Linked DNA regions of Homo sapiens: region 2 is linked to region 1. The links come from fine-mapping of genetic effects on gene expression. Tissue or cell type: whole blood. Region 1 holds a variant in brackets; the other region holds the start of a gene. All regions are shown on one strand. Distances are between the middles of the regions.

Evidence for each region. PIP is the estimated chance that this variant, and not a neighbour inherited with it, causes the effect.
Region 2: it holds the start of RNASEL, and the variant in region 1 is fine-mapped to the expression of RNASEL in whole blood (INTERVAL, PIP 0.98).

Annotation. Positions count from the first base shown.
Region 1 is chr1:182,677,989-182,683,137 of GRCh38, forward strand. All of the region lies in intron 1 of RGS8 (regulator of G protein signaling 8), which reads right to left. Among named protein-coding and RNA genes, the nearest start is that of RGS8, 4.0 kb to the right of the region's middle. The variant G/GTTCATTCA (reference allele first, on the strand shown) is at 2,634.
Region 2 is chr1:182,586,158-182,591,306 of GRCh38, forward strand. It overlaps RNASEL (ribonuclease L), which reads right to left and starts at 3,099. Exons shown (of 7, transcript NM_021133.4): 1 at 3,010-3,099; 2 at 1-813. The coding sequence starts at 649. RefSeq lists an enhancer at 2,815-2,974.

The DNA of each region.
Region 1 (5,149 bases):
GTTGAATCCTGATTCAAATGTAAAATTTTAAAAATAATACAGTGCAATTGAGAAAATCTAAACACTGATTAGATATTTAATAGTATTAAGACATTATCGTTATTTTTTAGTGCAATTTTGATATTGAGGCTTTTTTAAGAGACCTTATCTTTTAGAGGTATACTCTGAAATATTTATAGTTGAAATGATATGCTATCATGAACAGCTTCAACATCATCTTGGGTGGGAAGCTGGGTGGTAGGTACGTAGGGACTCATTGTTCTGTTCTCTTGACTTGTGTATATTTGAAATTGTGCCTACAATGTGTGGCTTCAGTAAAATAAGCCAACAAAGTACAAGAAAACTGAAATACAGAAGGAGGAGACTATTTGAATGGAACTTGATTTTCTGTACATTTTCCATTGTAAGTTTTTCTCCCCTTGAATAAATCCATTTTAAGAAAAGTCTATTATTTTATGCCTAGGGAGCAGGTGCTAAAATTCACAGAGGTTTAGAGTGGGTATAACTCCTAGACATCACCTACAGAAACTAAACTTTGAAGACTTTGTCCAATGTCACATTTCTTAGAGGCATAGCCAGGACTCCAACTCAGAGTTCCTGGATGGAATCCAGCCACATCCTTTGTTCCCACTGCTGAGCTGCCCATCTATACAGGCAGAATTCAGGGCCATATGTTAACACTGGACAAGGAGAGAAATGATGGCCTGTTTGCTCACCTCCACAGCCCTTCTCTGTTCCTACTATGATCACAGCCTTAAACACTGAACTCAGGTTTTACAAATGACCTTTCCAGTGGCCAACTAGTTTCTGTGAGGGCAGCTGAAGGGCAGGAAGGTAGAGTGGAGAGAGAGAGCTTATGCAACATACACAACTCTTCACACCCTCACAACCTGATCTCCTGTCCCATCAAGATCATCAAGGCCTCAGGTATGAAATACCTGGACCTCTTTTCACTTACTAACAACTCCTACTAATCTATCCATATTACACACACCCTGACCTCCTTCCAGCTGCCCTCAGATGTGTCTATTTAAGGTGAATTCTTCCTCCTGTGGCCTTCCACCTATTCTTTCCCATGGACCCTCCTTTATGAACTCTATCTTTATTTTCTCTTTCTCACATGTTATTCTGCACTTAACAAAAACAATGTTCATCTCTTTTATTTAAAAAAATTCCCCTTGGGAAACACCCTTGGGTGTTTCTCCTTTTATCAGCAAAACTGCTTGAAAGAGTCTCCTCTGCTTCCTCACTTCCTATCCCCTCCTAACCCCTTTGCCATTTGGCTTCCATTCCCACCATTCCCCCGAAACACAGCCTCCATACTGTGAGGTTCAAGTGGAAATGTTCCAGTACTTGTCTTTATGAACCTCTTTGCTGCCTTTGCCATGGTGACCATTCATTTCTTGGATCTCTCTCTTTTGACTTCCCAACATTACACTCCCCTGGCTGCCCTTCCCCTTGGTCTCCTTTGCTGGCTCCTCCTCCTCTGTCCACCCCATAAACACTGGTATTTTCCTTCCTCTCTAATCTTAGCTTCCTGCCTCTCTCACCTTGCATGCTACTTGGGCAATCTCATCCTTGCCCATAGTCCTAACTACATTGGGTATATTGACCATTTCTAAATATTTTTGTCCAACTCTAGCCCCTCTCCCATCATGTAGACACCAATAGCTCCCAATCATGTAGACTCCGATAGTCCTTGGGTTGCTGAACATACCCCTCAGATATCCTACAGGCCTAACAACTGCAAATATATCTAAATAATGGACACATCATATTCCCATCTTTTCTTGGCCCATTTTATCCGCCGCCCTCACCACGCCCACCTCCCACTCCACCCGCACCCCCTACACACACATATAAACCTTGGCTTCCTCTGGAATTGCTGATCTCAGTTTCTGGCACCACCATCTACTGAGTAACTCAAGCCAGAAATAGGAAAGTAATTACAGGCAACTCCCTTTCTCTCATCTCCTGTCGACAACCAATTACCAAATCATACTGATTAAATCTTTCATAGTTTTCAAATCTGTCTCCTCCCCTCCATCCTCGCTACCACTGCTCTGGCTCATGTCCTTACGGTCCTGGTTCACGTCCTCACAGTCTCTGGTCCCCATGAGACAGCCTATTTTCTTAAATTCAGCTCCAATCTGCAGCCATAATCACCTGGTTAGTCACAAACATGACTGCATTTCCTTCTCCTCAAAACCTTTAAGCCCTCCTACTCTAGGGATAAAGTTCCAGCTTAAGAAGGATCCTGATACACAAACACCCCAAGGTCTGGCTACCTTGAGAGTCACCTACCACTTCCCTGGCTTGTCCTTCAGGCCCCAATAACTCTACACTTTCCATAATCATGAGCACATATCACAGGGTTCCATGGCTTTGGGCCTCCTTTATTTCATTTCCTCTGCCCAGAATGTCCTTGATCTGAGTGAGTCCTGCTCATCCTCAAGCTGCACTTCAGGACGACTTCTCCAAAAGCCTCACCTGAACACCCAAGTTCAGGAAATGCCCTCTGTGCTCCTATGGCTTCCAGGCACACTTCTCTATGTCAGCACCTGGCATAGCTAGGTACCTGCAACTCTCTTCTCCTAACCAGATCCTAAGTTCATCAAGGGCAGAAAGCATGG[G/GTTCATTCA]TTCATTCATTCATTCATTCATCTGACTAACATTTAAGTGTCTCCTATGTGCCAAGCAAGGTCCCAGGCATGGGTACATTACATTCCCTATGTACATTGCCTAGGTAAAAAACGTATTTTTCATCTCTACACCTCCAAAATGTAGCACGGTCCCCGGCAACAGGAAAAGGCTCAGTTAATGTATGTTGAGCTGACACGAGCCCCCCAGCAGGTAGGTGAGGAAACTGTGTTTGGTGTAGGATGCTGGCCAACAGAGACAGTGTGGAGTCACAGAGTGGCACAGGCTCCAGGGTCAGCAACAAGGGTTCAAGCTCCAACTCTGCCCCTTTATGGCAGGCTCTCCTTGGCTTAGGACCTTGCCTTCTCATCTCTGAAATCAGAATTACTAAGGCAATGCCCACTTCCTGTGTTACTGCAAGAATTCAGTGAAATATATAAGTAAACATGGGCTGTAAATCACTTAGGCTTATGAAAACATTGAGTCACAGGGAGAACATCAGAGTCCGAGAAGGCAGAAGCCCCACACCCAGTGGGGAGAGGTGTGGAGGCTGCATGGATGGGACAGGAGGGCCAAAGGTGGAGAAGCAGAGGGATGTAGTTTTCAAAGCCATGGAGCTGAGAGGCAAGCATGAAACCCTGTCACAACTGAAATGTGGCTTTCCCTCCTATCGCTCAGTGCCAGGGTGCTGGTTATCAATCTCTTCCCCTTCTCAGATAGTAACAAAAGCTTTACCATTTGCCATCAGAGTCTACAGCTGTGGGCAGAGAGCAGCTTCAGCACTCTCCCCCTTCTCTGAATATAAAATAAGCTCTTTCTAATCCTCCATTTTTAATGACTTCAGGCAATGGCTTTCATGTCCTCACTCCTAGCTCCATTCTAGCCAGACACCTAGAATCACGCAGCAAGGAGAATCCACAGCCATCAGACCCAGGAGTGGGGTTCGGCCACAGCAACAGCAGCAGGGAATAGTGGAGTGGAGTCTGGGACTCTGGGGACAGTTCTCCCACTGGTATTTGCTCCGAAATTCACACAGAACTGGGAACTGAGAGCACTCAGTGAGACGCCTTGCTTGCGGGCATGTGCTGGTGCACGTTAATGTCTGAGCTGGAGGCGGGAGGAGGGACGAGGGCTGTGTGGGTGCACTCCGATGCACGGAGATGCTGAGCAAATTCCCCCTGACACTTTTCCTTGAGAGACAAGGCCCTGGGAGGAATCAACCTTAAGCCACTCAGCTTTTCTGAGACCCTCTTCCTTCTAGAACCTTTTACTGCTGAATTCAAAAGCCTTTGGGAAATTCCATACAGAGAACACTGACCAATTCCATGCAGAGAACACTGGCAAAGGTTCTGATGATGATGCTGATATTTCTTGGACGTGAAAAATACCCCCCAGGCACAGAGGGGAAGCAAGAAAGCATTTCTGACATCTCTAGAAATGTAGGTGTTTGGACAAAGAAGAAACCAGAAAGCATAAAACAGAGAGCCTGGAATAGAATAGACAGGAAAATTGTTCTAAGTCATAAAGTCATTATATTAACAAAACTTACATTTGTATAGCGCAGTCACAAGCTGGGTTGTGCTATACAAATGTGAGTTTTGTTACTTATAATCACAAGTCACAAGTTGGAGCTGGGATTGAGAAAGGAAGATGGAGAACAAAAAGGACATTTGAGGCTTAGCACCTGCTAAGTTGGAAGAACAGGCATATTTCTGCACCCTTGCTCCTGGCAAGAGTGGTGGGCTTAAAGGTTCTGAAGGGTCTGTTAGAGAGTAAATGGGGATGATGATACAAGGACAGGTGCTTTCACTTCTCTGGCTGAACTTCCTCGAGTTTTTTTTACCCCCCTTGAGCCTCAATTTGTTCTAGGAAGTTGGGAGAATTAAACAGCATCATGTGGGCAAGTACCTGGCAAAGTTGTTCAGCACATCTTGACCACTGGGAGCTATCATTCCTTTCAGCTGATCCTCACAAGCTCCTTTGAAAGTGAGCCAGACACTTGTTATCACTCATTTTACAGATGAAGCTGCTCAGTGGCCCTGAGTGGAGGGCCCAGGGTAATTCAATTAATGGCCCTAAGAAGACTTGAACCCAGGACCTCCAGTACTTTTTCCACCCCAACTCTGCCTATTCAGCTCATGCTGCTGCTGACCCATGGCTGAGATCCACACTTGGAGGGTTTTTCTTAACAGAAAGATGAGGGTTTGGCTCAGCTGTCCATCCACACTCTTGCTCTGTCCTCTAAGAGCCCCTTGCTATAGTGGCATGGCTGTTGTGACTAAGGAACCATGTTCTCCAGGTCAGAGTTCACTGACCCACGGGAGAAAGACCTTCACCTAACTGGCATGTTTCATTCACCTGGACAAGAATAAGAGCAAGTTTTCAGATCCCTTTTTGTGTTAGACACTATGTGGAAAAAATCTTTAAACAAAGAAGAAGCTAGAAGGATGTGATACCCAAGGGAGGCTTACCTTGACCTGGCCATGGTGAGATGTGGGCCACACTACACACTCTACTG
Region 2 (5,149 bases), 92 kb before region 1:
CACTATCGTCAGAGCTCAGGAGAGCATGGATCAAGGCATTTCTGCCCATATTGTCACAGGCGTTTACATCTGCCCCCATCTCATCAAGGAGAATCTTCAAGACCTCTACGTGTCCTTTTTCAGCAGCGTCCATGAGAGCTGTGGCCCCTCCTTTCCTCAGCCGCTCTTGATCCTCCTTTGTCTTTCGCCTCAAATTCACATTTGCTCCTCTCTTATAAAGGAATTTTAGGGCTTTGACCTTACCATACACAGCGGCTTCCATGAAGGCTGTGAAGCCATAAAAATCACACTCATTGACATCTGCTCCTTTAGAAAGGAAAAGTTTCAGCAGCTTCACGCTCCCCGCAATCGCTGCGAGGATAAAAGGCGTGGCCCCATTCTTCTTCCTCAGAACAGGGTCAGCACCATGACGAAGCAGAAGTTCCACAATGTCCTCCCTGCTCATTTGTACTGCGTTATGCAGAGGTGTCCAGCCCCCTTCCTCTTCCTGGAAATTAACATTGGCTCCACCTTCCAGCAATTGCTGGACCAGGTCAACATCTTCGTTTTGAACAGCTTTAATCAGCAAGTGATTGTCTTCCACTGCAGCCCTTCTACCGCTGGAGGACGTGGGTCCCTCCTGGGGGTTGTTATGATCCCTGCTCTCCATGACGGTAAATGCCACCTGCTACCACTTTTAGCCTTTTCCTTGAGAAAATGCAAATTTATCTCCTAGCACTTAATCAAAGAAGCTTTGAGTGTAAATTGGGATTCTCTGGCAACAGAGCAGCAGTATGAAGAAGGAACAATGTTCTCAGTCTTCTGACATTCCACCTGGCAACGAAGAGAGGTGCTTTGTAATTTTACAATAGGGAGAAAACACTTGAATCAGAGAAATTAATTATATTAGCATTTTTTCTAAATACATATATTTATTTCTTATAAAACTTTTAAATTACAGAATATTATAAATATATGTAAATTCAAAATAAGAAAATTATTTCTCTAGTCCCAATGCCCAGAAACAGCCAATGTTAATATTTTAGTGTATTTCTATATATTTTTTAAGACATTTGGAATTATACTCTGTAAGTAACTGTATCCTACTTCCTTTCATTTAATACCATACTATAAGTCATTTCCTGTGTTATTGCAAAGTCTTGTAAAACATTTTTCATGACTATGTAATATGAAATCATACAGTTGTTTCATTTCTCTATTACTGAGTGGTTTTCAAAAATAAGTTTTAAAGGGTTTTTTAAAATTAAAAATTTAAAAAATCTAAATGATGTTGCAGCAAATTCAGCTTATTTTAGTTTATTTTCTTTCGATAGATCTTATGATAGATTTCATATGATAGACTTCAAAGAATTTAATGACTATTCAAAAGATATGATTGTATTTAGGATTCTTAACCTATATTAACAAATTGCTTTCAATGTCATATAAATATATTCTTACCAGAGATAGGTGGCTTCCAAAAAAAAAAAAAAAAGACCATGAAAATATGCACATCAATTATTTATCAATAAAAAAAGAAGAACCCTCATTCAATAAGAAAAATATATTTCTTGGCTTTTTTTCCCTTTGCATTTCTTATGTCACCAGGAAGGTTGATCACTGTGTTTGCTGACTCTGTGCATGTCCTCTTTGTACAACCCTGTGCCCCTATTTAAAGTACAGACAATATCTGACTTATGTTTTTTGACTTTGATTTATGATTTTTTGACTTTGCAGTGGTGGAAAAGCAATAAACATTCAGTAGAAACCACACTTCAAGTACACATACAACCATTCTGTTTTTTATTTCAGCATAGCATTCGATAAATACATGAGACATTTAACACTTTATTATAAAATAAGCTTTGAGCTAGATGATTTTGCCCAACTGTAGCCTAATGTAAGTGTTCTGAGCACATTTAAGGTAAGCTAGGATAAGCTATGACGTTCAGTAGATTAGGTGTATTAAATGTGCTTTTGACCTACAATATTTTCAATTTAGGATGGGTTTATCTGTATGTAACCCCATCATAAGTCAAGGAGTATCTGCAGTAGTGAAAAGAGCTTGTACTCTGACCTTAGGGAGATCTAAGTTTGAGCTTGTGGCTGTGTAATTTTTTACTATTACTTCCTGTAACCTTGGATTGTTGAATCTCAATTTTCTATTTCCTGAAATGGAGACAAAAATAAATACAGTCATGTGTGTAAAGTACATTAAAGTATGGAGTGTTGCAAATATTAGCCACTCAATGAATGTTAGAGCTAATTATATCCCGTTATGAAAAAATAAATTGCTTAGTGAATTCTATTCTCCCTACACATGTGCATATAGCTACTACACGAATAGGCAACTGGCAGCTATCAATTTCGTCCAACTGTCAATCAGATCTGAGAATTACAGATCCAGTTCAATCATCAGACAGCCCGAAACTGTTACCTGAATATTTAAATAACTGCATCTGCTATAGAATTCACGAAGCAACCCTTTTTCAGCAATCTCACCACTCTGACAGTTTCAAAGCCTCAGAGGTTAATTGATTAGCCTCTTAGAAGTTTAATTAATTGTGCAACACATACACGATCACCAGGCAATGAAATCTTTGAACCAAAGTGTTTGTGTAGACCGTCCCCATTACAATCAGATGTGAGGTGGGCTGGTATAAACAAAGGAGCCGGGAAGGAGAGGAAATATCAAGGAAGCCCTGAGTGACGCATCAGAGTAGAGAAGAGACGAGCCTGCGGAAGTACTCCAACAGACAATCCTGCTTTCAATTTCACTTTCTCTGTGCGACCTGAGTAAGTCGCAAAGAGATGCCTGAGAAACTGAGGACATGGATAAATGACGTGTGGACTCTGACAGAACTCTGGAAGGGCACTGGAGGAAGATCCTTCCGGGCAGCCAAGGGCTGGGAGCTCCCCTCCCACTTCCCAAGTCCTCCAGCCCCTGGCCTCTCCAGTCTCCAAAGCCCAAGAATTCTTCAGGATCGACTTATCGAGGTTTTCTAGCTTTCCTCCTTCTGCCTGCCTTACCTGCTCAACTCAGACGTCTCAATTATTCCTTTGGCAGCCGCAAAGCCTGGAAGACTGCTTGCAGCCCGAGCAGTTTCCTCCTGCTGCGTCACTGAGTCAGCAGGGCGGAGCCAAGAAAGGAGTGAGGAGTGTGGGAGGGAAAGCAGCCACAGGCTCACTCTGGCACCAGGAGCAAAGCTTCTACTTGCACACCTTCTGGAGGAAAGCAATAGCCACTTTCTGTCTGCTGATGAGGAATGTGATGCCCGGGGTCATGTCACTCACCTCTCAGTCTTGCAGCCTTTCAGGTGGCAGCAGCCAACTGCATCCATCACTCTTGCATCCTTTCTTTGTCATTGCAAATTCTGGTCTTCTTGGAAGAAAGGAATGGAAAGTAAACACATATTGAGCACCTATTGTGTTCCAGACACAATGCTTTACATGCAGCATGGTCCCAGTTAACCCCTGACAATCTTGTTGATTATGAAACGCAGGCTCATAGAAGCTAAGTAAGCCCAAAGCCCAAGCCCTGTCACCTTTCTCAGCTCACTCAACTCACAGCTCTGAGGCAGTGCGGCCTTCTCAGAAGGGTACCGGACTGGCAGTCTGGAGACCTGATCCTACAGCCAGCTCTGTGGCTGCTTAGCTGAGTGACCTCAGGCATGTGATTTAACCATGTAGGGCCTCAGTTCTCTCCTATAACTTGGTTTTGAAGGTTCCTTTCTGCTCTACAAGTTCTGTTCTTGACTATCTTCCTAGCAATGAGCTGTGTACTGTGTACTTAGTGCTGTAGTGGAAAGTATTTCCATCCCCAAAGAATACCCAGTCTTGCTGGGGAGACAAAGCCCTGGGACTTGTGAACAACAAGTAGTGCATGGTCACTTGACGACCACCTGTGTCACACCATCCAGACCCGGGGCCTCTACCACCCCTTATACACCAGGGATTCCCAGGCCTCGCTCTCTAACCCCAGCCTCTCTGCTGAGCTTTAGACCTACAAATCTTGAATATGTGTCAAATGGAAATACTCATCTTTTCCTAAATCTGCCCCTCCTCCCACTTATTCCATCTCCACAGATGGCACCATCACCCGGAGGCCACCCCTCATCCTCATCCCAACACCAAGTCTCTTGCTTTCATCTACAAAGGGATGACCATTCGAGTCCTTGTCATCATTTATAGCAAGAAATTGATGACTTGCTTCCTAGCCCTTCATCCATTGTTCCACCCTGCATCATTGACCCACCATCATTTTCAGGACAAAGTTCAAAAATCCTTAACCCATTATTCATTTAATTAATACTTGTTGGACAGGCGTGGTGGCTCACACCTGTAATCCCAGCACTTTGGGAGGCCAAGGCAGGCAGATCACCTGAGTTCAGGAGTTCAAGACCAGCCTGGCCAACATGGTGAAACCGCGTCTCTACTAAAAATACAAAAAGTAGCCAGGTGTGGTGTTGTGCACCTGTAATCCCAGCTACTCGGGAGGCTGAGGCAGGAGAATTGCTCGAACCCGGGAGGTGGAGGTTGAAGTGAGCCAACATAGTACCACTACACTCCAGCCTGGATGACAGAGCAAGACTCCGTCTCAAAAAAAAAAAAAAAACTTATTGAGCACTGACTATGTTACCAGTGACTATTCTGCATATCTGGCATAGAATGATTTACCACACCAGTTCCTCACAGAGTTCTTCTAGGAGCTTGCATCTTAATAGGCAGAAATAGATCATAAACAGTTGAAAAACCCAACATATCATGATTTCAGGTTATAATACAGTCCCTGCCTGTCCCTACTCCTCATGGGCATCATCAGTGCTAGCCTCCAGTTCCTTGTCACATTATGTCATATGCTTCTACCTCTATATCTTGACCTATGCTGCCTTGCTACCAGAACTAATGATATTAGTAAGAGTGATGAAAATGTGGATGATTCTGTTAATAATGACAAACATTTACATAGCTCTTTAATATGGTCCAGGAACTGTTCTGAACACTTTATATATGTATTAAATTATTTAATCTTATCCTTATGATGTATATACTATTTTTGTCTCCGTTTTGCAGATAAGAAAACTGAAGCATAAAGTGGTTAAGTAACTTGCTCTAAGGATTTGATCTATATCACTGAACATCACAGAGAAACAGCTTGTCCCCATTCTTT